Linked DNA regions of Homo sapiens: region 1 is linked to region 2. The links come from fine-mapping of genetic effects on gene expression. A gene starts in region 2. The other region holds a variant in brackets. All regions are shown on one strand. Distances are between the middles of the regions. Region 1 holds the start of LOC105374157 (a long non-coding RNA gene). Region 2 holds the start of P2RY12 (purinergic receptor P2Y12).

Region 1 (15,522 bases), 230 kb before region 2:
ATAAAGATGTATGCTTTGGCACTATGTTATACTTAACTTTAAATTTAGGAAAATGTTGGACCATATTGAACACAAAATGTTTGCAAATATATCAAAGATAGATATGCTTCCTTGACTGTGCCATAAAGAGAAGATGGGAAAAGGAAATCTTGACTTTCCTATGGTTTGATTTTATGAAAACAAGTTATCTAGTCTACAGATATAAAAAGAACATATTATATGCGCCATTGAAATGAATAGTAAACTTAGGAATTAATTTAAGATTTAGTTGTCTATTAATTTGGCAATAGAGTAATCAAGTTCCACAGATTTTTATGTGAACATTTTGAAATAATAGTAAGATCTACATTTACTTATTTATCTATAATTTCCTAAATAAAAAAATTAAAATTGTAAATTGTAGCATACCTGTGTCATGAAATAGGAGAACTGATAACTCAAATATGTTCACTCAGTCATGCTATGGTGAAAAGTTGAGCCAACTCTTTGGTAGATAAATATTTTGGAATTCCTGTCTTCAGTTAAGTGGCTGGCTCTGAAACACACTCTAAGAAACAACGAAACGAGCTGTGAATTTAGCATTGTGCCTTCCAGTTTGTTTATGCTGCCAGTTAAGTACCATGTATAGTCTTGACCAATGTTTATTCTCTGGGACTCAGTTTCCTTCTCTGTGAAAGGAGGTAATTGAATTAAATTATCACGGGAGCATCACAGAATGTTAGGACTAAAGGAGCTTTGGGGATTGTTTTGTCTAACTCCTTTGTGTTATAGAAGAAACCAATGCTAAAGTGCCTATATCTGTTGGATACGATGATTCTATTACTACTCTTCCAAGTCAGATATCTTACAGTAACATCCCCACATCCCACAAAGGAAATTAAATTGAATTAAGCCTTCTATTCAAAAAGCATAGTAAAGGATATTATCCAAATAAATAAAATGTGTCAGAAGTAAATTTCTAACCTATGACTAGCAATGCTATTTCTAAATATCCCCCTACCCCCAATTTGAAATAGATCTACTCATTCACACAGAGTTAAAACTAGAGTTGTTTCTCTTCCTTAGAGCATGGAGAGACCAGCATAAGGCCTGAACCCATATTGATACATAACTGCTGTAGTTGCTGAAACAGCATTTGGTAAAAGTTAATAATCATTATGGATTAAAATCATTCATAAAATAGCAAAAGATGGACATTTTCTGGTTATTTATAAATACATTTATAACTAAAAGATCTAGCATCAAGCTTAAGAATACAGGTGATACAGATGATAAACAGCTTCTAATTAACTTTAACACTCTAAGACAAAAACAGAAGGGGAGAAAGGCAGTGAAGGAGAAAGGAGGAGAAGAAGAAAGATGGGAAGGAGGAGGGGTGGGGGAAGGATAAGAGAAAGAAAGAAAAGTATGTTACCGAACTTGCAGAAAAAGAAGCAAAATTAACATTATTTTCAAATGATAGGATTGTAGAGATTGAAAAAACAAGACACTCAAGTAAAAGAGACTCAAAGTCAAAACCACTACAAACTATAAGAGATCTGGTATAAACATAAACATGCTTCAATAAAAGCAATAACCATTTTTCAAACATTATATAAGAGATCATATGTAGTATTTCTAGGCAAAGGTAGTATAACTACAGAATAATTAGCAAGAAAGTGAAGAAATGTTTTAGAATGCTTCTGAAAGACAGAAACATACTTGCTCAAAAGGAAAGCCTACCTTGCTCTTGGATAAGATTTATCATTATAAATCACAAACCAGAATCACAAACTGGAAAGAAGGAGAGGAAAGCTCACAGAGTTCTGTTTTATTAATGTAAAAAATAAAGCTTTCCCCAAAATGCCTAGCTGACTTCTCTTCACCCTTGGTAATATGAATGTGATTTGCATACGCATCCATTTCTTTTACACAAAATTACTGAGCATCAATATCAGGCAAGTACTCTTGTTATGAGTTTGGTTATTAATAATAATGTTATTAATAATCTGACCCTGAATGTTGGAAACAATTATAAATTGTAGAGTTGACGAGAAAATACTTGATTGAACTCCTGTGGGAATCACCTAAGTATATTCTGTCCAGTGAAAATCTTTCATAAATAACAGTCATTTGTTAAACTGGTTAAAATAAGTAGTCCAGATCACAATATTTTTTCTCCTACTCTTCTCAGTTATCATTTACCAATCAAAGTATTTTTTCCACATTCTGTAGACACAGATCTAAGTGACATGAGGTATATAAAAAGACATTTTATATACACAAGATCCTTTCGGTTTAATTAGAGAAATAAGACCTACATTCTGAAAAGAAAACATAACATAAGCAAGAGTGAAATATTCCTAAGTAATACTTATAGATTTTTTAAATTGTAGTTCTGATTAGCTAGCAGTTTCCCAAACGTTCACACTTGTTTTTTTTTAATTTACAATTCCATTCTGTTCTCTCCTTCCCTTTCTCCTTATTCTTTGAAACTCAGATCAAGGGTTAGCTTCTGTATAAAATCTTGTCCAACCACCCCATATCCTAATAGAATTCACTATTTCCTCCTTGTGCTTTATGTACCCTCTGCATAATATTTCAACAGCATCTTACAAATTCTTGCGCGTATTTCTTTGCATGCTTGTCTTATCCAAGATCATGCTCATTCAACTTTTTGTACCTGTCACCTGGCACAATGCTGCAAACATAAGAGATCAATTGATTAAGTGAATAAAATGATGGGAGTTTGACTATTAAAAAAGGAAATAGAGTCTGGGCATGGTGGCTTATACCTGTAATCTCAGCACTTTAGGAGGCTAAGGTGGGAGCATCACTTGAGGCCAGGAGTTCAAGACCAGCTTGGGCAACATAAAAATACCCTGTCTTTATTAATAAAATTTTTAAAACAAAATTAAAAGGAGATAGACTATAATGTTTTATGGAACAAAAAAACTAGAGGAGCACAATTGTGTTGTCCTTGGATTCGTTTTGAACTTCTTAAAATAAGAAATGAACCCAATTTACTTTACTGCTCCTGGGATAGAAAGTTCAAGGACCAAAGATATTTTCCTGTTTCTGTGCTACACAAAACTGGAGCTAGGCAAAAGTCACTTAGCTACTTGCTGCAGTAAATACATGCTCTAGAAGATAAAACTATGAAACAACAAAAATAGCTTAGTGTTTAAGACTAATAGCGTATTTCTGGACCCTTTCCTTGCCATGCCCACCAAACCAAAGTTATTATGCTCCAAACCCTGACCAATCCCAAACAGCTCCATCTTGCAAAATCTGCCTTAAAACCACCCAATGCCCTGTATATTTTTCTTCCTGTAACTTCCTTCTTTAGAGAATTTATTGACAATCTCAAACATGTTGATGTTCTCCTTTAGTGTAGTAAGTCTAATTAACTGAGCTTTACTTGATCAATATGTTTATCTAGTGGTCTTTGATGGCATTAAGGGCCAATAGTAGCCTTAAAATGAATTTATATATATATTCCCCAGTTTTGAAGAACAGTTTATCTATAATGGGGAAGCTGATTTTGTGTTATTTACCTTAGATTCTGTTATCCCCCAAAAGGAGGAAGCATGAGCTAATTTATAAAAACACAAAGTATTTTTTATTCACTTTTTAAATGACAGCTAAAGTTATACATTTTTTAACTCACTTCCTCTTTTAACAATATTTCCTCATATTTATAACTTCATTGAATGGCATTACCTAAAAGATAACCACTTATTTTATTTTTAACAGTTTTATTAAAGTATAATTTTGTCTTAGCTTGTTTGCTGCTGCTATAACTGAATGCCAGAGATTGGATAATTTATAAAGAAAAGAAATTTATTTCTTACAGTTCTGGAGGCTGAGAGTTCCAATGTCACATGACTGTCTCTGGAGAATCTTCTGCCAGTGGCGACTCTCTGGAGAGTCCTGAGATGGCACAATGCATCCCATGGTGAGGGAACTTAGAGAGACAGCCAAACTGACTATACAACAGACTCACTCTCATAACTCACCCACTCCTGTTATAACCCATTAACCTATTAACCCATTAACCTATCAACCCATTAATATAGTAATCCATGAATGGATGAATAAATTCATGAGGGCAGAGTCCCAATAACCCAATCACCTCCCAAATATTCCACCTCTCAACCCTGCCGCAGTGGGGATCAAGCCTCTAACAAATAAGCTTTTCCAGGATACATTTAAACCATATCAAATTTACATACCCACTTATTTTTATAGTAATATTTGGGGTTAATCATAAAATGCATATTCATTATTAAAAACTGGAAAAAATACAAACAAATATAAATTCTCAACTGTCTGATAAATCCATCTTAAAATTTTGGTCTATTACCACAAATTTGTTTTTCCACTACATACACACACACACACACACACACACACACACACACA[CACACACAT/T]TAAAAGTAATTGAAATACTATTTCATATGCCATTTTATAATTTGCTTTTTCTCTTGTTATATTATAAAAAATGTTCTGCTTTTATCATAAATACTTCAAAAACTTTACATTCATATTTATGGTGAAGTAATACGATGCTTGAGATTTCCTTCAAAATAATCAAGGTGGAAGCAGGGGGAGGCCAATGGATAAGCGAATAATAAAAATAAGCTAGTGTTTAGTTGATATCTGTTCAAGCTGAATGATGACTACATGTGAGATCTTTATATGTTTATTCTCCATACTTTTGTATGTTTGGTATTTTCTATAAAAAATTTAAAATCTTTATTTTTAGTATTTACATTATATTTTATTTACATATTTACTTCATTTTATGTAACTATTCTATTTATTAATTTTCATTAGAGATTTAGATTATTTATAGTTTCTTACTATTGAAAACACCGTGATAGGGTCTTTGTACATAAATATTTGTATTTCTTTGTATGAGACTTTCAGTGATAGCTGAAAGTTCGGAAAACTTCACATCTCTGTTTATTTATTTACAAAATATATGAAAAAAAGCCTGCTCTTGTACTTGCCTCCTGGCATACATAGTAAAACAGTATAAACATTTTTATTTTTATTTTTTATTTATTTTATTTTTATTTTTAATTTTTTAATTTTTTATTTATTTATTTTTTATTTTTTATTTTTTTTTGAGATGGAGTCTCACTCTGTTGCCCGGGCTGGAGTGCAGTGGTGTGATCTCGATTCACTGTAAGCTCCGCCTCCTGGGTTCACGCCATTCTCCTGCCTCAGCCTCCTGAGTAGCTGGGACTACAGGCACCCACCACCACGCCCGGCTAATTTTTTGTATTTTTAGTAGAGACGGGGTTTCACTGTGTTAGCCAGGATGGTCTTGATCTCCTGACCTCATGATCCACCCGCCTCGGCCTCCCAAAGTGTTGGGATTACAGGCGTGAGCCACCGCGCCCGGCAAACAGTATAGACATTTTAAAACTTCTTTATGTCCATTACTAAATAGTTTCATGGGAAAGTTGTTTCAAAGAAATTTTAAAACATTTTAGCATCTTAATCAGTTTGGGTGGCTGTAACAAATATAACATAGACTGGGTGGTTAAAACAATAGAAATGTATTTCCTAACATTCTGGAGACAGATGTCCAAGAGCAAGGTGCCAGCGCTTCAGTTACTGGTGACGACTCTCTTCCTGGTTTGCTGATGGCCAACATCTTGCTGTATCCTCCCACAGTGAGAGAGAGAGATCATCTCTCTTGTGTCTCTTCTTACAAGGTCACTGATCCCATTAATAAGGGTTTCATTACCTAGTTAACCTAATTAACTCCCAAAGGCCCCACCTCCTCATCACACTGGGGATTAGGTTTAAATCTTTGAATGTGAGGGAACATGAACATTCAGTCTATAACAGACATGTCTATTTATTTTCTGAATTGTTTATACTTGTTCTTGACCATTTATTCGATGCAGGATGCTTCATGATGAGGGGGCTAGAGCATGCTAATCTGGCTTTTATAACATAATCACTCTTGTGATAACTAACCCTCTCCCATGATAACCTATTAATTCATTAACCTATTTATCCATTCATGAGGGCAGAACCCTCATGACCCAATCACTTTTAAAAGGCCCACCTCTTAATACTGTTACACTGGGGATTAAGTTTCAACATAAGTTTCAAAGGAGACAAATATTCACACTATAACACTTTGCTCCTGGCCCCCCAAAACTCATATTCTTCTCCCATACAAGTAGATTCATTCTACCCTCACATCCCCAAAGTCTTAATTCACTTCAGCACCAACTCAAAAGTTCAAAGTCCAGAGTTTCATCTGCATCAGATATGGGTGATACTCAAGTGACAATTCATCTTGAAGTAAATTCTCCTTCGGTTATGAACCTTTGAAATTAAACAAGTTATCTACTTCCAAAAATACAATTGTGAGACAGGAATAGAACAAGCATTCCCATTCCTTCAGGGAGAAATAGCCATCCCCCCAACAAAAAAAAAAGAAGATGAAGAAAGAGAAGAAAAGGGAGAAGAAGGAGAAGGAGGAGGAGGAGGAGGAGGAGGGGGAGGAGGAGGAGGGGAAGAAGAAGAAGAAGAAGAAGAAGAAGAAGAAGAAGAAGAAGAAGAAGAAGAAGAAGAGAAGGAGAAGAAGAGGAGGAGGAAGAAGAAGAAGAGGGGGAAGAAGAGGAGGAGGAGGAGGAAAGAAGGAGGAGGAGGCAGAGGAGGAGGAAGAGAGGGGAGGGGGAGGGGGAGAAGAAGAAGAGGAGAAGAAGAAAGTAGTATCAAGTCCCAAGTAAGTCTAAACCCCAACAGGGAAAACTACTTTAAATCTTACAGCTGGAGAATAATCTCCTTTGACTCCATTTCCAGCATCCTGGGCTCACCAGTGCAGGCATTGGGCCCTAAAGGCTTCAGGCAGCCTTGCCTTCTCACTATGTGATGTCCTGTGCCACCCTGAAACTCTACAGAGGGTCCTTACCTGTAAAAAGGCCCTTACCAGATGCCACCCCTCAACCTTGAACTTCCCAGTCTCCAGAATTGTAAAAAATATTTTTTTTCTTTATAACTTACCCAGTCTCAGATATTCAGTTATAGCAACAGAAAACAGAATAAGACGCATTTCGTAGAGGTTTCTATAGATGATACATAGATGCATGAATGGATAGATGCTCTTTATAAATTAGAATATTAATCAATCAGTTAACTTATTTGTGGAAAGCATTTTTACTCAGCTTGTCAATAATGAATTTAAATATTTTAATGTAGAAAAGGTTTTTGTTTAACTTTTATGTGCCCAAATATATTAGTCTTTTGCATTGATATTCTGCCTTTTCTATGTTTAAAATATCCTTTAAAGGGGCCTAAGTATTTATTTTGGAAGTGTGTGTTTTCTATGAAAGAATTCTCCAAGATACAAAACCACTCTCTCCTTTAAGAGATGTTTTTACTTAATGAATGTCCATAAAAAAGAAAAGGATATAATAACACCATTCTATGTTTTTATATGTTAGATTTTAGTTAATTCTATACATTAAGTTACACTTAATTGGCATTATTTTTGAAGACTGAAATATATGTTGGATGAATGAAACAAAATAGAAAATAAAAGAGTAATAACAAAATAAATATTTAGTGCCAGGCACGGTGGCTCATGCCTGTAATCCCAGGCCTTTGGGAGGCTGAGGCGGGAGGATCACTTCCTGAGGTCGGGAGTTCGAGACCAGCCTGACCAACATGGAGAAACCCTGTCTCTACTAAAAATACAAAATTAGCTGGGTGTGGTGGCGCATGCCTGTAATCCCAGCTACTTGGGAGGCTGAGGCAGGAGAATCACTTGAACCCAGGAGGCGGAGGTTGTGGTGAGCCGAGATCACGCCATTGCACTCCAGCCTGGGCAACAAGAGTGAAACTTAATCTCAAAAAAAAAAAAAAAAACCTCAAAAAACAAAACCAACCAAACAAACAAAAACAAAATAAATATTTGGTAAGTGGATAAATAAACGAATCCCTATAAATTAACATAACTCCAAGTTGTCACAGTTGATAGTTAAATGCTTAACTGAATATTTTGCCATTTTAAGAATTACTGTTAATATTTTTCTATCTTTATCCTAAAAAGGATTCTTCTCGACCTTTGTATGCTATTTTAATCACTCCCTTAAAGCTCTATTTAATCACTCCCTTAAAGCTCATAATTTTTATCTGCCCTTGCTTTTTATAGTTTCCTTTCAGCGCTTCATATTTCCTTCCCTTTGTAGTTTATTTGATCCATAAAGAGCGTACTTAAAATTTTTCCTACTTCCGCACTGTTAGGTTCTCATTAAGCTTATTTCATATGCCCAGCATAATTTGAATGTCTTATTTCCCATTACTGCAAATTTCTTCACATATTCAGAGTTCTCTAATTTATTTTAAGTAAAAGAAGAGTAAAGTAATTAAGACACAGCATACATGGAACAATATAGGAGAAAAGTAGTTCTTTTTAGGTACTAGCTTTTAATATGTAATAAGAGAAATTTAAAATGAAAATTAAGTCTGTATTTATATGGTGAAATAAATATAAAAATTGTTTAAGAAAATTATAAATTAAAAATAGTGATATAGACATTAAAGGTGAAAAAACACACCATCATTTTGGGTAAATTACTTTTCATAGCTATAACTCACAAAAAAACCTTGACATTCAATCTTATAAATGAAGTAGCTTTCAGTTAACATATGCATTTTAATCAAATGTAACATTAGAGGGTAGAACATTGTCTGACCCAAAATAGAGGTTTCATGCATATTTTTTCAAATGTAAATATGTAAACAAAACTTACCAAAAAATGTGGCATTAAAATTTTTCTGACCTTAGCAAATGCTTTTAAACATATTTTAGAAGTTCATAGGCTTTCCAAAGTCATCTATCATTACAAGAATAGCTGTCATTGCTTTTAGTAAAAGTTTCAATTTTCATTGATATCACCATAATTATTACATTACAGGCTTCTTTTTTTTTTTTTTTACTGTTTCTGTTACCTCACTTCCAATTCCTATACTTCACTTTACCTTTTCTTATTTTTTTATTTTATTATTATTACACTTTAAGTTTTAGGGTACATGTGCACAACGTGCAGGTTTGTTACATATATATACATGTGCCATGTTGGTGTGCTGCACCCATTAACTTGTCATTTAGCATTAGGTATGTCGCCTAATGCTATCCCTCCCCCCTCTCCCCACCCCACAACAGTCCCCGGTGTGTGATGTTCCCCTTCCTGTGTCCATGTGTTCTCATTGTTCAATTCCCACCTATGAGTGACAGCATGCGGTGTTTGGTTTTTTGTCCTTGCGATAGTTTGCTGAGAATGATGGTTTCCAGTTTCATCCATGTCCCTACAAAGGACATGAACTCATCATATTTTATGGCTGCATAGTATCCCATGGTATATATGTGCCACATTTTCTTAATCCAGTCTATCGTTGTTGGACATTTAGGTTGGTTCCAAGTCTTTGCTAGTGTGAATAGTGCCGCTATAAACATACGTGTGCATGTGTCTTTATAGCAGCATGATTTATAGTCCTTTGGGTATATACCCAGTAATGGGATGGCTGGGTCAAATGGTATTTCTAGTTCTAGATCCCTGAGGAATCGCCACACTGACTTCCACAGTGATTGAACTAGGTTACAGTCCCACCAACAGTGTAAAAGTGTTCCTATTTCTCCACATCCCCTCCAGCACCTGTTGTTTCCTGACTTTTTAGTGATCGCCATTCTAACTGGTGTGAGATGGTATCTCATTGTGGTTTTGATTTGCATTTATCTGATGGCCAGTGATGATGAGCATTTTTTCATGTGTTTTTTGCCTGCATAAATGTCTTCTTTTGAGAAGTGTCTATTCATATCCTTTGCCCACTTTTTGATGGGGTTGTTTTTTCTTGTAAATTTGTTTGAGTTCATTGTAGATTCTGGATATTAGCCCTTTGTCAGATGAGTAGGTTGCAAAAATTTTCTCCCATTCTGTAGGTTGCCTGTTCATTCTGATGGTAGTTTCTTTTGCTGTGCAGAAGCTCTTTAGTTTAATTAGATCCCATTTGTCAATTTTGGCTTTTGTTGCCATTGCTTTTGGTGTTTTAGACATGAAGTCCTTGCCCATGCCTATGTCCTGAATGGTATTGCCTAAGTTTTCTTCTAGGGTTTTTATGGTTGTAGGTCTAACACTTAAGTCTTTAATCCATCTTGAATTAATTTTTGTATAAGGTGTAAGGAAGGGATCCAGTTTCAGCTTTCTACATATGGCTAGCCAGTTTTCCCAGCACCATTTATTAAATAGGGAATCCTTTCCCCATTGCTTGTTTTTGTCAGGTTTGTCAAAGATCAGATAGTTGTAGATATGTGTCATTATTTCTCAGGGCTCTGTTCTGTTCCATTGGTCTATATCTCTGTTTTGGTACCAGTACCATGCTGTTTTGGTTACTGTAGCCTTGTAGTATAGTTTGAAGTCAGGTAGCGTGATGCCTCCAGCTTTGTTCTTTTGGCTTAGGATTGACTTGGCGATGCGGGCTCTTTTTTTGGTTCCATATGAACTTTAAAGTAGTTTTTTCCAATTCTGTGAAGAAAGTCATTGGTAGCTTGATGGGGATGGCATTGAATCTATAAATTACCTTTGGCAGTATGGCCATTTTCACGATATTGATTCTTCCTACCCATGAGCATGGAATGTTCTTCCATTTGTTCATTGAGCAGTGGTTTATAGTTCTCCTTGAAGAGGTCCTTCACATCCCTTGTAAGTTGGATTCTTAGGTATTTTATTCTCTTTGAAGCAATTATGAATGGGAGTTCACTCATGATTTGGCTCTCTGTTTGTCTGTTATTGGTGTATAAGAATACTTGTGATTTTTGTACATTGATTTTGTATCCTGAGACTTAGCTATTTGAAGAATTGCCACACAGCTTTACACAAAAGTTGAACTAATTTACACTTCTACCAACAGTATAAAAGCAGATGATAGTATCTGACTGTTGTTTTGATTTGCATTTCTCTAATGATCAGTTGTGTTGAGCTTTTTTTCATATGCTTGTTGGCAGAGTGTGTGTCTTCTTTTCAAAAGTATCTGTCCTTTGCCTACAAATTTCTATGTCTTGATGCCAGGTCTTCAACACTCATTGAGAATTTTTGGTCTTTATCTGATAGCTTAAAGTCCAAATTTAAATATAAACTTATTACAGTCTGTATGCCCATATCGCTAATTGTTTTACCTTTGTTCGTATCATATAAGGAAATCACTCTCTTTTAATTGAATTATCAGCTATAAGTTGGCTGCAGATATCTATTACCTGGGAATGGGTTCTTTAGGGAGTGGAGAGCATCTTCTTTTCTACTTCTATACTCTTATTGCTCTATCCCTCTGACTTCTTTGAAGGGAAACAATTATACAGGCCATTCTGACCTTTTGCTATTAAAGAAAACTTGGAGGCTAATCACCACCTGTAAAAGTATTTTCCATGATGCTGAAATTACTGGTTCTGTGGTATGTGTGTGTCACACAATGAGACGTCCTTTATGATTAGAACAGCCTAGGATTGTACTATGAAATCATCTTATTCACACTCTGTGTGAACCACATCCAAGGGGCTTGAATAAGACAGGAAATGTTTTTCAATTCATTTTCAAGAGTTTTCTTGGTGTACTGAGATTTCAGCAAGTTTGGGAAGGAGAAGAAGGAAATGCTATGAGAACTTGACACGAAGTGCAATGCCACATGCAAGAGCAAAAGAAAAGAAACTGCAAGATGGATACTGCCACAAAAGAAACTTGAAACATTCATTTGGGGACAGGGAAAGGGGAAGACCAAAGAGAAAGGAAATAGTCCTATTATCCATTTTGTTGGCTTCTCTATTGCTGGTCAAATTATCTGAGCTCTACAACTTTCCACATGTAATTGATTTTCCTATTTATTGGCAAAATGACTTAAGACTGAAGGTGAGTCAGTGGCTCAACCTAGAAGGAAATTCGTACATAGTTCTTGGTCAACTTGTTAATATTTCTTTTTTAGTTCAGTGCTTAGTATAGTTTCCAAGTAATAAATCTTAATAATTCTTGAAAACGGAAGGAAAGAAGTCAGGTTAAAATACAAGCAGCAAAATAAATATATGATTTAAGCTGCTTTTCTACATACAGCTAAACTTTTAGAAGTAGAGTTTGTTTTTATTGGGCTAACACACATCATGTCAGGAGGTCTTAATAATGCTGGCAAGCAAGAAAGCTGATGGAAAGTTTCTCTGGCTAACAAAAATCCTTTTTTAAGAACACATGGAAGATATCCATTTCAGAGAATTTAGAAATCCATGGGGAAAAAGAAATTCCGAAAGACATTATTTTTGTTCTGGCTCTCGTGTTTTCTCTTTCTCCCCTTTGCCTCTACTTACAGAAAGAAAATCAAGGATTTCTTACTTCATAGGTCAATGAATCAAGATACTGAATCTCTGCACACTCACAACTGTATGCACTGCCCATGTGGCCTCAGGCAAAAGTAGCTGGCCTTCACATTCAAATTGTACAAATAATAAATGGCCATAGATTAGTACTTTAAGATTTGGAAACTGAAAATAAACATTTGGTGAGTTTTCAGTGAAAACATTAAAATATGTTTTCCAGGTGTTATTTTATAGGGATATCATTTATAAGGTGGGATATTATCATTTGTAAGGTTTCTTTGAACATATGTGAATTTTTGCATATGACAAGCTAAATTAGAAAATGTGTATTCTCAGTTGTTTCTTCCCAACTTGATTTATAACAATCCAACAACAATCATTTAATATTTTCTTCTTCCTTTTGAACCAACCTACTATGTGCACTTTACAAAGTTATAGATTAGCTGGACAGCCTAAGGCCTGTCAAACATATACCCAGTCAACTAAACCTTGGTGCTATGGTTTGAATGTATCCTCTAAAATGCATGCTGAAGTTTAATTGTCCTTGTGATGGTATTAAGTGGTGGGACCTTTATGAGGTGATTATTATTAATGCCATTATCTAGAGAGTAGATTAGTTATCTCAGGAGTGGGTCCTATACAAGGATAAGTTTGCTCCCATTTTCTCTGTGTCTCACATGCTCACTCTCCATGTAATGCCTTCTGCCATAGACTGACCCTCAGCAGATGCTGGTGCCATGCTTTTGAACTTCCCAGCCTCCAGAACCATATGCCAAATAAATTTCTACTATTTATAAATTACCCAGTCTGTAGCATTTCATTGCATCAGCAGGAAATGGACAAAGACACTTGGCCTCCTTAGAAATATGCATGTTTTATCTGAATGTAATTAAAACTTATTTGCACACACCTTCATCTGAGTTCTGTCATTTAATAAAACAATTGTTATTACAAAAATGATCATTAAAAAAGAATCTAAGAAAGTCTGACTAGCTATCACACCTATAAACTGCCTCCATATAAAGTTTTTCATTTTGTATCAATTAATTTGCTTTGTCCCATGTGAGCTACAGCTTGATCCATGACTCATTTGAGCTCCAGATCCTAGAGTACTCATTTATTGACTAGACACAAGGAAAACCGGTGGCCTATAAGATGGCATCATGCTCTGTATTGGGAATAGGAAATGTTCTATCAATATTTGAATGACAGATTCACTACTCTGATTCTCTTTCTTAGGAAGTTAGATATCAGATATGTAGCAAGTCCTATCAGTTCCTCTTTCACAATATTTCCTTTACCAATGCTCTCCTTCCACCCAACTGCCACCATCCTATCCAAACTACCATCATCTCTCTATTGGACTGAGACCATAGCCTACTTACCCAGTCTCTCCATCACCACTGTTGCCCTGTCAAAATCCACTTTCCTTATAGCAGCCAGAGTGTTCTTTTATTTTAAAAGATTTTTTAAAGTCATTTCAATTTTTATTTTAGATTCAAGGGGGTACATGTAGAGATTTGTTACATGGGTGTACTGCATGATGCTGAGTTTTGGGATATGATTGATTCCATTACCCAGGTAATGAGCATAGTACCCAATAGACAGTTATCAGCTCCTGCTCCCTCTCTCTCTCCCCACCAGCAGTCCCCAGCATCTACTGTTTCCATCTTTGTGTACATGTATATCCAATGTTTTGCTCCCACTTATAAGTGAGAACATGTGGTATTTGGTTTTCTGTTTCTGCATTAATTCACTTAGGGTAATTGCCTCCAGCTGCATTCATGTTGCTGCAAAGAACATGATTTCAGTCTCTTTATTGCCGCACAGTATTTAATGGTGTATATGTACCACATTTTCTTTATCCGTACACTGTTGATAGGCATCTAGATTGATTTCTTTGCTATTGTGAATAGTGCTGTGCTGAGCATATGAGTGCATGTGTTTTTTTTTTGTGGAACAATTGGCTTTCCTTTGGGTATATACTGAGTAATGGGAATGCTAAGTCAAAAGGCAGCTAGAGAAAAAGGTCAGATCACTTACAAAGGGAACCATCCGGCTTCTCAGAGTGTTCTTTTTAAAAGTACAGAAGATCGGGTAACTTACCTGATTAAAATTCTTCAATGATTTCTCATTCCTTATAAACTAAAATTCCAACTCTAGCATAAGCTACTTTCTGCCTGCCTCTTTGCATCTCCATTCTCCAACCTCACTCATTGTGCCCCAGATATGCTGACCTCCTTCCTGTTCCTCATGCATGTCAAATTCTCTTCCACCTCAGGTCCTTTGCTATTGCTGTTTCCTATCTCTGGAAACATCTCCTCCCCTTTCCCCCATGTATTACATGGCTGGCTTATTTTACCTTCAGAACTCAGCTCAAATATCTTCTTCAAGAGGTTTTCCTCTAAAGCAGTCGTTCTCAGTCTTCACTGTTTATCAGAATGTCCTAGGAAGCTAATAAAAACTTCAGCTGACTTGATTACTTCCCAACCCTGAGAAGTAATTCAGACTAGGACTCTGGCATCAGTATTAAATCAGAACAAAACAAAACCCTCTACAGGTGGTTGTAATTGCAGCCAAATTTTGAATCAGTGATCTAAAGAAACTCACCATTTTCTTTCTCCATTATATCCACCTTTTAGTGTCCCTTAGTGTGTATCATATTCTATAATCACCTTATTTACTTATCATTTTCATATTGTCTTTTTCTTTGACAAAAATGTCAATTATATGAGAGAAGGGAAATATTCTCCTTATTCACTGCTGTGCCCCTAATGTCCAAAATATAGTAGGTCAATAAAAGAAGGACTGAAGGACCTTTAGGTCAATAGACAAACAAACAAAGAAGTGTTAAGCATCCGAGAAACAATATGGAGAATCTATTAAGTAAAGGGGATACCAAAAGTGAAAGAGAGTAAGTGGTGGAAAGATATGAAGAAACCAGAGAGAAGCTGAATCATGAGAATGAAGAAAAGCATAAACTATGGACAACAACATTTGCTCTTAGGTCATTGGTCTCTTCCAATGAAACCTGAACGTCCAAAGGCTAAAATTGAGTCCTTTTTTGTGAGTCCTTAAGATGTCCTACATTATCTCAGTTTTATGCAAACTCAGTTCCATGCAAAACCATGCTCAGCTCCATGCAAACCGCTTTGCTG
Region 2 (15,522 bases):
CCTAACAATGCTGACAGATTTCAAATAATTTAAATATGCTAAAACATGCAATGTTTCATATAGAAAGAAAATTGAATTCATTTTTCATTAAGAGATGTTTTCATTTAGAAAATTTTCATTTGGGACGAGAAATCTACTTGGGCTTGAACCAAAGCAATACTAAAATCAGGAACATTTACTATGGTAGTTTTCCTTGTTGTTATCTAAATCTTGCTGAACCAATTTTCTTAGCTGTCATGATAATTCAGAACAATAAAAGACACTGTGCAATATTGTGTAATCTTTTAAAATGCCAATAAGAATTATATCTGATAAAAATACACACATTTTATAACATAAAACCGTTATCAACTTTTATATCTTACAGCTTAGATTTTCATCACTAGCTAATTTCCTTTTAACACTAAATAAAAGTTCCAAAATCAGTACATAAACTCGTAATTTAACCTATTTTAGAAAACAAAAAACATTTCTGTGTGAAGGGAATTACAGAAATGTCAACTGAGCACTCAGTGGTTGAAATGTCCAAGTTTTGTGGAGGTTTCAGGTTAAAAGCAAAGAGAACCACAAGCTGTTTCTCATCTCTGAGTGATCTGTGCTTTCTCATCACATACCTGGAGTAAGAGATTGGTTCTGAAGGAAAAAGCCGGGCTGCTGGGGCTGGCCCACGAGGTTGTAACCCCACAAGGTGGACTGTGGATGGTGCATCATTTGGGAGGAGATAGGCGAGTAATTAGGAGGCACTCGGTATATGTTGCTCTGTGGATATTCCTTCAACATAAAGTTTTTTAAAAAGTTACGTAACTCCACATATCACACAGCTAATTAATGCAAATAACTTCAGTAAGCTATCTGAGGTACCTCCTATCCCAATGTACAAAGCTGTTTTTTATAAAGGAGAAGATGGAAGGAAGAGTGCTAATAAATCCCCTGGAAATATTCATTTGAGGTAAACTTTTCCTTGACTTAAACAGTGCTTGGCTTGCAGTGGGCAGAGATGGAAAAGGATCTCTTCTGAATTCTATTTCAAAAGACTACAAGTGTGTCAGGAATACCAATACTGAACGACACTCATCACTGAAAAAGCACCTTCAGTTGCTAAGACTCATGATCATTTCATCTTAGAAGGCCTTTCCAATATCTTGGGTCTGGAGAATTACGCCAGAGAGCCCTACAGTGCTTCAGAACCACTCTTTGGCCAAGATGGTATTTCACTTGCAATTTTCCAGACATCGTTCTAAAGAAGTAGACACTCCCCTCATCCCCCATGCTTCCTCTTCCTTATAGTAGCTGCAAAGCCTGTAAGGATCACACCTGAAGGTCTCAATTTCCCTACCTTCCCTCATCTAGTCTAGCCCTAGAGGATGGAAGAGAAACAAAATCTCATTTCCCTGCAATTTTACTGAAGAGCATATCTCATTGAAAAGAGGGAGCTTCAGGAAGAATAGAGGAAGAGGGGACATGACCAGACTGACCTGGGGAGCAGGATTGGTTTCAGGGCTTTTTCATCAGAAAAGAACAAAAGCCCATCCACGTGGACTGACAGGCTGGAAACCCCAAATTTGAGGGAGTGTCAGTCTGGACCATTTTAAACTTCCCTTCAAGACAAAGGAATACTGGTAGGAAGACTGAATGAGAAGGGGGCACTGATGCTCAAGTGGCATCCTAAAGTGGTGGTGGTCATTTCTAAAATAGTATTAATCACCAAGCTATCAGCTAGGAAAAGATGTATTTTAGTTCTCACATAGGTAAACAATAACCAATCATGAATATCTGAATGAAATGGTGAATATTTCTTCCACTGTGCAGCAAGAATGCTGTGGAATTTCATTAAAAATGTCTCAAATCCTCTATCAAATATTTTCCAGGTTTTAATTTAATTTAAATAGAAAAACATTTTATGCATTACTTCTCAAGGTTTATAAAATTATTTCTAAATCACCATCAAATAGATTTCTGTTGTAATGAAAAGATTATTATACGTGGGGAACACTAATAGAGAAACAAGAAGTAAAACTATTTTAAATTAGGCTTATTTTCATCTTTTATAAAGTCTGAAAACATGGTAAAGAAGGAAAATATATGAGGGTAAGATGGAATAGTAAAACATAAAATCTCAGGAACATCCTATTGGCTATGCTAACTCCAAGTTTTATCAAAGAAAAACCAAATAGAGCTTTTTATGTTAATTTACTGAAGATATCAACCACTTAAAATACAATAAATATTTTAGACATATTAAAAATATGTGAGAGAATGGGATTGTATAGTTCTAAAAATTTCAAGTTTCAAACCCGAGGAAATTAGGAGGCACTGAAATATTAATTAAATATTACAATGGAAGCCTACAATTAAAATAAAATTATTAAAAGTGGAGGACGGAAAATCAAAAGCTTTAATCTTTTGTCTGTGACAAGTCATTGTGTGCCATTCAGTTAATGCAGAAACCTGTTAGGAGAACTGTCATAACAAAACTTATCCTGCTCTTGGTAATGTTTCGAGGGATATGATTTGGGCACGAGTAAATCTCATACTAAATGCTAATGAGCCAAGGTTCTCCTTCCTTTCCCCACTTACATCAACTCTTGAGCTAGATTTCGTCTTGCGCTTCCTTCCTTTTGTTTTCTTTTCTTCATCTGTTGTGGTTTTTCCCTGATCTGACAGCTCAGCGGACTTCCTTTCTGGTTCCTGAGAAACTGGAGATGTGGGCTCTTCCTCTTCCTCCTCAGGAGGCAGGGGCAGTGGCTGGAGGTAGTAACTGCGGGGCTTGGGCATGGGGTGTGTGTGATACAGCAGGAGGTGATGCTGCTCCTCGTACTTGATCACTCTTCGGTCCACTCGGACTGTCCCAAACCAGGCCCAGGACAAAGGAGCTGGGTTCTTCTGACCCTCAAACAAGTCCCACGGGGACACCTTCTGCTTCGTAGAGACCTGGAGACCCTGTGGGAAAATAGCGCTCTAAGATAGCACACTCAGATCTTTTCCTTATTCATAGGCCAGGCTTGTATGGGACATGGAGTCAGAGAACACTTTGGCTGGCATGAGCCCTAGAGAACCCGAGAATACAGCAGAGAGGGTTACACAGCTACATCACCGGAGAGCAGTGGCTAGAATTCAGACCTTTGTAAGCCCGGTTCTACAGTTCTTTAACCACATGATGCTCTGTTTAGGCAACAGAGGCAGTCTAGCATATTTTATTGTTAATGTGTATTTCCTCTTTTTGCTAAAAAAATTCTAAAAATTTGTTGCTAAAAATTCTAACACTGCAAAGTTAATCTTACTAAATTATAACCAGTTCTAAATCTCTGTAATCTATTTATAATTTTGAAGATAATATCAAATTTAAGAGTCAAGTTATAGTCAACCTGTAATTGGGTTAGTATTAACTTCAATCCAAATCTGCATGAACTTGGTTCAATATGTGGGCCCTGTACTTAATAAGCCATACTCTGAATATAATATTATTATTAGAGAATTAAATTGTAGCAGCAGGAATAAGTAAAGTCTTTCAACTCAAGCTTATATTTACTGACTCTAGAAAAAAAAAAACGGTTACCCTCTTTTTATTCTTAACATTAATTGGTGACATCTCTTGGCACTTGCCTTAAAATGTCAATTTAAAAATATTTTTCCTTAAATGGCCCCCAAATAACTACTCAGTCATTCCCTAAGATGTAAGTGTTACTGTTGTTATCTATATGCATTCTTTTATGAGTAGCTTCATCTAAAACTAAGGTTCAGGCCAGGCACAGTGGCTCGTGTCTGTAATCCCAACACTTGGTGAGGCTGAGGCGGGTGGGATCACCTGAGGTAAGGACTTTGAGACCAGCCTGGCCAACATGGTGAAACCCCGTCTCTACTAAGAATACAAAAAAAGGCTAGGTGTGGTGGCTCACACCTGTAATCTCAGCAATTTGGGAGGCTGAGGCAGGTGGATCACGAGGTCAGGAGTTCAAGACCAGCCTGGCCAAGATGGTGAAACTCCGTCTCCACTAAAAATACAAAAATTAGCCAGGCATGATGGCAGGCACCTGTAATCTCAGCTACTCAGGAGGCTGAGGCAGAGAATTGCTTGAACCCGGGAGGTGGAGGTTGCAGTGAGCCGAGATCACGCCACTGCACTCCAGCCTGGGTGACAGAGCAAGACTCTGTCTTGAAAAAAAAAAAAAAACAAAGACAAAAACAAAAAAAAATTAGCTGGGCCTGGTGGTGCATGTCTGTAATCCCAGGTACTCAGGAGGCTGAGACAGGAGAATCGTTTGAACCCGAGAGACAGAGGTTGCAGTGAGCAAAGATCGCACTACTGCACTCCAGCCTGGGCGACAGAGCGAGATTCCATCTCAAAAAATATAAATAAACAAAGTAAAACAAAATAAAACCAAGGTTCAATTGCCACCTGTAAATTGACTGTTTCCTAATATTTGTCTTGAGATGAGAACTTTTTCCTTGGTGTAAAAACCACACATCCAAATGGATTCCAGATGTCTTACTACCAGGAAGTCCGCTGACACTGCAAACTCAAACTTGACCATGACTTTAGCTTTTTTTCTTTACACAAACTGGTATTAGATTCTCAGGCTACTCTAAATTCCCTGGTAAATCTGATTCTTTCATGTCTTCATATAAACTCTCCCTTTATTTGTACCACAATTTTCCCTACCTCCCAGCTAACTCTTAATCCTTCAAAATGACTCGTGTCAATTTTCCTGGGGACCCTCTATTCTATCCCCTAATACTCTCTCTGTACCATGTCACACAAATCTCATTACACTGTAATTGTCTGTCTACTTCCCCCTTGAGGGTAGGAACTCTGTCTTTCATCTTGGTGATTGTGGAATGTCGGTGGTTGCTTACTGTTCATTAAAAGAGTAACTGACCAATTTTCTCATATTTTAGAGAACCATCTTTAATATCTTATATAAAACAAATGTCCATTAAATACTGCTTGATAGGAATAGAGAATATCCTAACAATTAAAATAATTTTTATTTGAAATAGCTTACTACAGGAAGGTTTTTTTTTTTTTTTCCCCCCCCAGAGACAGGGTCTCACTTTGTTGCCCAGGCTAGGGTGTAGTGGCTATTCACAGGCATGAGCCTAGCACATTGCAGCCTTAAACTCCTGGCTTCAAGCAATCCTCCTGCCTCAGCCTCCCAAGTAGCTGGAACTAAAGACATGTGCCACCATGCTCAGCTTACAAGAAATTTTTCATTGATAAATATATTCTGCTTCTAAATCTGAAGTATAATCAGAACTTATTTATGCAATTTTTTTTTTACACTAAGCTTTTACTTAGTTTTCTCTTGGTAGGTTTCCAAAAATTTACTTAAATTCAGGGAAACATTTTAAGTCCTTTAAACATATAAAACGTAGATCTTCAAAGATATGACCTCTTTATATGATAATGCCAATGACTAAGTACACTTAGAAGACAAGCATATGCCTTAAAAACATCAACAGCAAAATTAATATATTTTATATATCCTATGGTAAGACAAAAAAAAGTATTTCATCTTTTGTAAATAAATTTATATATAAGAAAAAACATTCACTCTTGCCTGTTTTTTATCTATAGAGTCAAATCCAGCAATTTTGTTTCCTTTTGTGTCAATCAAGGAACCCATAGGTTCACAAGTGATGACATCACATGTCTGTTTCGGCAAAGGTAGTAACTGTCGAACTTTGTCAATACTTTCTGATCGCTTGTCTCCTAGCTCTTTCTAAAGAAAAAAGAGAGAGAGAGAGAGTGAGAAGTGGGACAGAAATTACAATGAAGGCAAAAGTTAACCAGAAGGAAGTTCCCCTATGAAACATTTCCCTTTTTATAGCTTAGCGCATGTTCTTTAACCCTGAACATGTTCTACAAGGCAGTTCCAAATAGAGCAATGAGTGTTTCATTTCTTCTATTTAAGTAGAAAATAGAACACATACAAAGGCACTGTTGTTACACAACAAACATCATAGTGCTGAAATGACAAAAATCCAGGGTAGTGATCACAATCAGAAGACAGGAGCTGCAGAACAGAACACTTTCTCATGTCCAGGGTCAGATTACAAGGTAACCATTGATTTATTTGATTGGTAATGCATCAGATTTATTTGGTTTCTTTTTTGCACTGTTTTCTTACAATTTTTTTTTAAAGGAGTCTGTTAGTGGTCGGTCAAATGAATCGATTTATAAATTTCAATGCAGATGGCTATTTTTTCAATTACACGTGCCAGTCCAAGCATAGAGTTATCCTAAATCTATCTAATGTTAGTATTCTGGTTATATATTTAACAGTGGATTTCTAAAGTTCTTTAAAAAATTAAACATGTTTTATAATGTAATTGTTTTCAATAAAAAATAATCAAGGTTATGTGCATGTAACTTCTGGGTACTAATAAGGTTAGGTGAAACAAATAGCAAATAATCACATTAAATTAAGTTGAATACAATTAATAACATTTAATGAGTAATAAATTAAAATGCACTAGATAATAAATCCATAAACAACTTGAGCTCATAATACAGGCTGATCTCAAACTTACTTTCAGTTTCTTTACTAAATTCATGTATGCACGCTTGTTCTCTTCAGATCCCCCAGGGGATGCATTTGATAGGTCAGAGGCTAACGTTCCATTGATTAAAACACCCAGCATGTCAAGAACTGTTGTGAATAATTCACTAAGAAAGAAAATAATTATTTTCATCTTAAAGTGAAACTGAAATACACTTATTTAACTGAGTATTTTTATTCAAGGCACAGAATTTTTAATAGCATCCAAGTAAATAAGATGTGGCAGAAATCGCCATCAGTATATCAAAGCTTATACCATGCATACATGTAGCAAAATCAATGTGAAGTGATAAAAACATACTTGTTAGTGTGCATGTCAACAGTTCCTGAAGTAATGATCTGAAGGAGTAGCAGGGCCCAGTCTGTAGTCCACTGGGTGCTCCTCTGCACCGTGTCAAACATTCCTCCTACCTAGCAGACAAAATACAGTAAGATATTTGCATTCTGTAAAACAGAAAGAACACCCCATTGCTTTATGTTATCAAATTTTGATTGTTTTTTATTTAAAAAAACAAGGGATGCTCTAGTTTATAGATTACCTTATCTTTTCTCTTTTACCTACATGTTTATCACTATTTTTAGTTCTTTCAGCACAGTTCAGTCATTCAAACATTAACTAAAATGAAGAAGGGACGTGAGTATCTGAATGTGGGCACCAATAAACTTAGCTTTCTTTTGTTCCAAATCTTTTATGATGTCCAGTTTTATGATGCAATTATAGTTGAATTAAACCTGAATAATGTCAAAGTCATGTAATCCAATTATCTGCATCTTTGTGTTTGCTGTACAATTACTATTGAATCTAAGCCTGCTATCATAATACCATATGGAAACATCCACTATCACAGCAGTGGTGGGCAGGAGGCTTGGCCCGCACACCTACCAGTTCACGTGTTGGGACAAGGTTAGAAACAACTGCAAAAGTATCAGGCAGGCCATCCTCCAGAGGGGCCTGCACTTGGGCCTGCCTGATGGGAAAAGAAAACTCAAGGAATGCACAATATGTGAGACATTTTAAATTTCTATAAAACTTCTCTGTGGGATTTGTCTTTATAATCAATTTGATGGAAAGTTGGACAAAACTTTGAGTTAAAAGACTTTTTAAATGGTTTTAAGTAAGTATAGTAGAAGCTAACACTTATAACAGTCTTCTCAGATTTATTCTTAGCACAAACTGAAGAGAAGGAGAGATTCACTGGGGTAGAGGTAGAGAAGGCAAATCTATGCTTAAAATACCTAGCACTGTCTAGATGTCTGACCAGACAGGAAGGAAAGCAGCAAGGGAAACAGAAGGCTTTAGAAACAGGGAAGTAATTACAGAGAGCAAAGAGTGGAAGGCCTCACCTTGTAATGCAGACTTTGCACTTAGGAGAAGTGGAAAGCTGGAGGTATTTTCACATGTAAATATGTTTAATGGAGGGAAAATACTAGAAATGTCACTTACCAAATTTAGGCGGAGTTGCAATGCTTCGTGCATCATCTGCCGCGCTTTTATGTCATCTTGGTATCGTTCTTCTCTCCAGTTACTTAAAATCTAAGATCCGGAAAAAAACTCCCCATTAAAGTTTAATTTTTCTCTCATTTAAAGATAAATTGAGCTTTATACTGATAGCAAAAAACCACTTCTTATCTTTAACAAATTAACAAACAAAGCTAAATAAAATTTTAGCTTTCTTCTTCCTCCATGCAGAAAGAAATCTGGCTATTTATTTGTGCATTTGCCGTTCTAGGTGGAGGAAGAAAATCTTATATAATTATATAGCTAGCCTATGATTAAGTCTGGGAAAATGCTTGAGAGGGCCATCAAATTAAGCATTAATAAAAACTTTTAAAATACATTACCTCATTGATCTTACGAAGAAAAACACTGGAGAGAGAGAATTACATTTTGCCTCAGTCCTGTTATATTTCTAGGGACTTGCTGAACCCTAGCAAATGTATTATTTTGATGTTTTATAGAAGAGAAGGTCTGCTATCTTATGTATGTGTCTTCCTTGATAAAGAGAACGCACGGTACTTTGAAAAATATGGCATTGCAGACATCAGCCAAGTGGCTTTATCAGTTTATAAAGTGGGCTGCTTCTTCACTTCCTCACTGACTCACACTAATGCTGGAAAAGGAAAAATTTGCTTAGGAAAGGGAGCCACAAGTGGGCAACACCCTAAAATCAGATGAGATGAGCAAAAAAAAAGTGCAATTCAAAACAAAAACAAAAAACCACTAACAAAAACCCTATCATGCTCTGAAATATGGTCATTAATGAGAGTCATCTTAAAAGAGTTCAAATGAGTCACATGCAGAAGTACTCCATCCCAACAGATGACCTGTAAGTACCCTGCAAGGTGAGAGGAAAGCACTTCCCAAATCTCATCAGAAGAAATGAACCCCTCCCTAAGGCTGGCTTAAGGGGGCAAGGTAGTTAACTAAACAACAAGCTCTCATGGAGCTCAAATAATAGTAGTGGGACAAATAAAACTAAGTGTAACAAGTGGTTTGAGGCATGGCAATGGCATACAGAATGGCTGTGGTCCTATTTTTAGAGGTGATCAAAGGCCTCCCGAAGGAGGTAACATCTTAACAGAGAACTGAATGAAGGGAGCAGGCCATGCTAATCTCTGGAAGGGAATCTTTCCACCTAAAGGGAAGAAAAGATGCACAGGCACTGAAATGAGAATTTGCTCAGCAAGTTCAAGAACAGTAACATGGCCAGTGCAACAACCATGGAGGAAAGAGGGCCATGACTGGTAGGAGACAAGGTAGGAGAGAGAGCCAGTGTCAAATCATGTCTGGCCTTATCAGCCCGAATTTTTTATACTAGGTATACTGAGGTAATATGTGACTTCCATTTAAAAAGGTTCACTATGATTGCTATATCTAGATCTCTCCTACCCAAAAGGTGAGAAATGACAAGAGGATCAAATAAGATTAAGTGTCCTTGTCCATGTCCATCTAGTACCATTCGAGGGAAAGACATGGTGTCATAGAAACACAGTGCCACAAGAAGGGGTCAATTAGGCTGTGTATCAGGATAAAACACCTCATAAGACCAATCTATCCACTTTGCTTAATTCCATGCTCTCCAATTTCTGTTGTGAATGCTCAGTTTCCTTATAGTACATAGATGCAAGAGCCTCAAACAGTGACCAGGAGAACTGTGTTTGGTGAAAAGGCAATGTCCAAATTATTTCTAAATAAACCAACATGCCTTCTGATTTATTTCTTGTGTACTTGGTTGGCATCAATACAACTGAGTTTCTGAACCTACAGATTTCAAGCTGAAAGCGTGCCTGATAATGTGGCATCCAAGCTTGAGGAGCTGGACTCACTGCCATGCCTACTGCAGCATAGATTGCTCCAGGTCCTCTCCTATGAGGCAGAGTTAGGAGACGGGCAGATAGTTCAAAGTTATATGCAATATATAAAATTTTACTTTTATAGGCAGTACACATTTATTGTATATATCTCATTAATATAAAGTTGTTAATCTTGTGGTGTCTACAATGCCAGGTAGAAGAATAAGGCATGGATTGTTTCTCAGCGTCTACTCAAAACATTTTGTAACCTTACTAGTTGTTTTTTTTTTTTTTTTTTGAGACAGAGTTTCACTATTGTTTCCCAGGCTGGTGTGCAATGGCGCGATCTCAGCTCACTGCAGCCTCTGCCTCCCAGGTTCAAGCAATTCTCCTGCCTTGGCCTCCCGAGTAGCTGGGATCATAGGCGCACACCATCATGCCCGGCTAATTTTTGTATTTTTAGTACAGACGGGGTTTCACCATGTTGGCCAGGCTGGTCTCGAACTCCTGGCCTCAGGTGATCCACCAGCCTCCGCCTCCCAAAGTGCTGGGATTACAGGCATGAGCCACCACACCTGGCCCTTATTAATTTAATCTCAGTATTTGAAAGGCAAATAAATGAATGCCGTTAGAAAGATATTTGCCTGTCTTAATATTATACTATACTTTACCTGGTTAACTTGATTCTGGAGAGATGTTAGGAGGCCTTCCCTTTGTTCATCTTGTCCCTTAAGGCAGGTAAGTACCAGTGAGAGGAAGGGTTGTTGACTCAAAAGAGACATACTACAAAGGAAGTAATAATAACAACAGATCTAGTTAGAAATAATGCATTACTTCCTCTGGCAACATTCATTTCTTTGCCTCACTATTAGATAAATAAGAGAGGTGGTAAATAGCCAAAGACTGCTTGAAAATTTAAATCATACCTCTACTTATAAAATTAAAAGCCACTGTAATGCTTCTAAATCACTTCGTATGCTCTAATTGCCCTCGAAGCCATTCTCAAACTAGCATCAAACCATACTGCATGTGAGCATGCCGGGCAGTGAGGGTAGAAGACAGTGAATTCATCTTCTACATCAATATGCAGAATTTAAAAATGTACATCAGAAAGAATATCAATTTATACACAGGATAAAATTAAAAATTTTTAAAGTTCTCATATAAAACTCTTGTTTTAGAGTCTGGGAAAACAGGCCTATATATATGTCTGTTGAGCTTGTTTTGGGGTTTGATTTTGTTTTTCAGCACATTTCCCAAGACCAAAAAGCAGGGTGTTAGTAGAGCTAATTCATCAGCCAGGGCTGAGGACTCCAAAAACAGTGTACTTGCTGGCGACCCCTAGTGTGCAGCTCCAACACAGCCCACAGGCTCCAACATAGCCCGCAGCATCCACTGGTAAAGAGGTGTCAAGGCATTTGGTTAAAAATTCTGTTTTAAATTGGCATTTTAACAAAATGTCTTCAATTAGAGAATAATCAACAAATCATATTGACAAACAAAGCGCCATGTTGGAAAGACAAATTTCTTAAAATGAGACCTAGGCCAAAATATTTCAATCAGCATTATTCTCCATGGGCAGAATAAAGAGCCCCTGATGTGGGAAGAGCGATCTTTCAAGTCTCTTCAATACCATCTGTCCTGCCTATGGGAAGTTAGGCAATGCACATACACTCACCTATCAGCAAATATGATTTGAAAATTAGAATTATGCTTCCTTGTTGGTTAATTAATCCTGGCCAACATGGTAAAACAACCAGATGTAAAACAAATACAGTACATACAATGCTGGGTCTCTACCAAAATGTACTGTAGTTAAGAGCACAAGCTCAGAAGCCAGACCTCCTGGATTTAAACCCAGGCTTTATGTCCTTCACTGTGTGTCCTGGAGCAACTCATGTAACCTTTAAGTGTCTGTTTCAACATGATATAAAGAAGATAATGAGAGTACCTACCACATGATTGCTATAAGAATTTTAAAAGCTCATGTACATAATGAGTTTTAGAGAGGAGTTGCCATTCTGTAAGCAGTCAATAAATGGTGGCTACTATAGTATTATTCATTAGTGGACAAGAAATCTATGTGCTTAAAATATTTTTTTAATGGAAGAAATTATCAATTTTTTTCCTTTACTCCTAGGTTTCTTGGCATTTTCACATTAGGGTGAGGTTTCTTTCTTTCTCAGTAACACGGTTTTCAAATATAATTACTTGAAACCTTTTCTTGGGCATAAAATAAATTAAGAAAACATTAGTTGTGGTGGCCGAGGAGTCTTAATGTCTAGTCTAGAACAGGAGCCCTAAATGTTAAAAATATGAGCAACTAGTTCAGACACCAACATGCCAGAATTATACATTATATTTATTTTAAACATAAATATCTAAATAATAAAAAAATAGAAATAATTAAAAATAAAATACAGGGATCAGGTAGCTATCCAGATCTGATTCAGTTGGTCTAAAGCGGGTCTCGGAAATCACTGTTTTTAACAGTTCAGCAGTGATTTGGATATAAAGGCAGAATTGAGAACTAATGTATTAAGGATTATAACCTGAAATTTTTTAGGAATAAGACAGCCTTGCCTAATAGAATATTCCCAGTTCCATTTAAAAACTAAATTTCAGTGGACTGTGGGTACAGTGACCACACAGGTTTACAGGAAGTGAGACTTTCTCAATTATTCTTTAAACTCTCACACAGACGCCCATCTTCCAGCCACACCTTTTCTGTTTCTGTCTGTCCCTTTCCTTTTTGGAAGAAGAACCCAAGTGCTGTCCCTTCTCCAGCTCTTCCCCAGCGGCTTTCAGCACTCTTCCTTGCACAGAAGTTGGCAACCTGGCGATGAGGGGGGCCACCAACCATACACCCCTGCGTTCGGAGGAACTAAAATCAGAAACAGGTGTTACACCGGAGAAAGCATCCTTTCCCCTGCTCTCACAGTTATAACAGAAACTCCAAAGCGAAACTTTGATGTATGAGACACACAGACTGTTCTAAAATTTCCCTTTTATTTCTGTATTATCTTTCCTTTTTCCGAACACTAGACATTTGCATGAGCTTTCCACCTAAGCCTACAGAAAGCAATAAAACATGCAGTTCTGGAAGGATATTGTAACTAAACTGACTTTAATGTTTTCCGATGACCCCCTCTCTCTAATTAAAAACAATCACTTTGTCCAACAAACAATATACTTTTCTGTCACAGTTACAATATGAAATATTATATGTAAGCATACTAATAGCTAATTTTTAAGGTTTAAAATTCGCTAGTTATACTTTATACCAAAATGATGAAATACAAATCAGCCTTTCATGATTAAATAATTACTTTAAGACTTTATATGCCTACTGGTTCTAATTCTGCACAAAAATTACCAGGATATATTTGTGCAAAATAATTAATTAATAAAAATGGTGGAAAAAGCGTTTCCCATATAATGAATACTACGTAACACAGTAGACTAAGGGACACTGAAAGCATGAACCAAACCTGAGTTCACCTGCAGTTTCAAGGTGTTTAAGCCTACTCAATCAAATATTCCGAAGCTATCATTCACCCCAGCTTTACTCATTAACTTATTAATAATAATCCCTGCTTACAAGTAACTATGTTCTTCACATTCCTATGACTTAAAGAAAAATCACTGTGCTACACAAAATTTACCGTTACTTGTGAAAAATTCATGACAGTTCAATAAAACAACAGACAAAAATACCTTAGGAATGTCTTTATTCCATTCTGTCTCGTGCTACTTGTATCAGCACTTCCAATACTGTTTGGGTTGAAGAGGCTCATGCCAGAATTAGAAGAATTATTTAGGTCTGCAGACTGCTGGAATACCTCTATTGTTGCCTTTGCAATATTGTCCAGTAAGTTGTTCATTTCGGCCACAGAACCAGAGCCCTAGAGTTAGATATAAGAATACTGGCACATATGTGTATTCCTTTATCCTCAAACATCAACGTGTTTTTGCTTTTTATAAAATTTCATACAGAGATAAGCTTTCAATATAAACTCACAGGGTCCTTCAAGCACTGTTTGATCATTAGCTGGAGTTCTAACCAGGATTGCCTCAGTGTCCACTGCTCAAGATTCTGGGAAAAATGGAAAGAATTAAAACATTATGGGTATCAAATGTGTTAAAATACAGTAATTTCTTACAGTACTCCTTCTCTCAAGAAAGAGCAGAATAATCATACACAATGAAATAATTTATATGAGTCAAAAGGTTCCCAATCTTGCTGCATATATATTCAGTAGCGATACAAACCAATAAACAGAAACATTAATTATTAATTAGTTAATACTGTGCCTGACTCAGCTATGCACTGAAACTAAATAAGCATTTCTCCTTTCAAAATCTATTTAACCAATCCCAATCCAAAATGATTTCAATATTTCTTTAATAATATATTTAACATAGCCCCTCTCTGAAGCATATTTCTCATGTAAATACAATACTGATTTAAAATATCAATATTTGTTTGATGATCATATACAATTTGCAGCATGTACATCCACCCAAAAATAAAGTATGTCAATTCCACAGAAAATGTGTGGGAATAAAAATCAGAATTGAAATCACAAATTAGCAAGGACAAAAAAAGAGAGGAAGTAACTCTTTTTATTATTACGAAGAATTTATCAAATGACAGAAACACAATCTGTATACGACTGACCTGAAGAATACGCTTAATGTGCTGTCTTTGCAGATTGTCCCCCTCGGTACATTCTTTAATGCCATGAGGATAACAGATAAGCTGCAGTAATTTCTGTGCTTGCATATTTGAAAGCACAGGGTCCAATATAAGTTCTTTGTCTGTACATAATCTTTCAGGTTCTTTTAAGCAATGCTCTCCTACCCATTCCTAAAAATAATATGGCAATTAGATTGACAGGCACTGGCTTTCGGTATATATATATGCAATATGTACTAAATCCACAGTGCATAATTGAATAGAAAACTGATAGGAATTTTCCAATTTAAAAAATTACATTAAAAAGTAGGTAGAAAAATTTTAAAAAACAAAATTTTTAGCATTTTGGCTTCTAAAAAATACAAAGTAGAACTTGCTTAAAAACATTTTTTAATGGGAAAAAAGAAAAGACAATAAAGAGAATATTAGTATGTTTTTAACTGGAAAGTAAGGTCTTGCTCTAGGCACTATTTTGTGTCAGTTTTTTCTAACTTGCTATATAATGATTCTATCAGATATACGTTCTTCATAATTTTTATGGAATACATTGTACTATCTCACTGACTAGATACAACATAGTATAACAAATATTTAGAAAACGATCTTCCTTTTTGATACTATTATGAATAATGTTATCATTATAAATGAGTAGTAGTGCACATCTCTTTTTTATACAATAATTTTCTTAGGGTAATTTCATAGAAGTGCAATTGCTGGGTCCAGTGTGAGTGGGGGGCTATAGATGCATGGGGTTAATGACCCTCTGAAGAGTTTCTACCAATTTAAACTCCTATTGCCTTTTCTTTACCATTTTTTTCAAAGGCAAATTATTATACTAAATAAAGTAAGAAATCATCAACAGTAACAGAGCCCAATTTGAACCCAGATCTATTTCGGGTGAAGTCTGTTTTTTAACCACCATACCAGTGGCTCAATGCTGGTTGCCCACTAAAATTACCTGGGATCTTT

Evidence for each region.
Region 1: its variant is fine-mapped to the expression of P2RY12 in skeletal muscle (FUSION, PIP 0.95).

Annotation. Positions count from the first base shown.
Region 1 is chr3:151,608,321-151,623,842 of GRCh38, reverse strand. All of the region lies in intron 1 of LINC02066 (long intergenic non-protein coding RNA 2066), which reads right to left. It overlaps LOC105374157 (a long non-coding RNA gene), which reads right to left and starts at 3,914. Exons shown (of 3, transcript XR_924581.3): 1 at 3,834-3,914; 2 at 409-547. It also overlaps a transcript of IGSF10 not described here. The variant CACACACAT/T (reference allele first, on the strand shown) is at 4,405.
Region 2 is chr3:151,375,228-151,390,749 of GRCh38, reverse strand. P2RY12 (purinergic receptor P2Y12) reads left to right here and starts at 5,997. Exons shown (of 3, transcript NM_022788.5): 1 at 5,997-6,058. MED12L (mediator complex subunit 12L) reads right to left here. Exons shown (of 45, transcript NM_001393769.1): 28 at 14,536-14,724; 29 at 13,876-13,950; 30 at 13,572-13,759; 31 at 12,577-12,738; 32 at 10,526-10,637; 33 at 8,005-8,094; 34 at 6,862-6,971; 35 at 6,532-6,667; 36 at 5,559-5,720; 37 at 2,578-2,940; 38 at 615-771. RefSeq lists an enhancer at 12,613-12,682.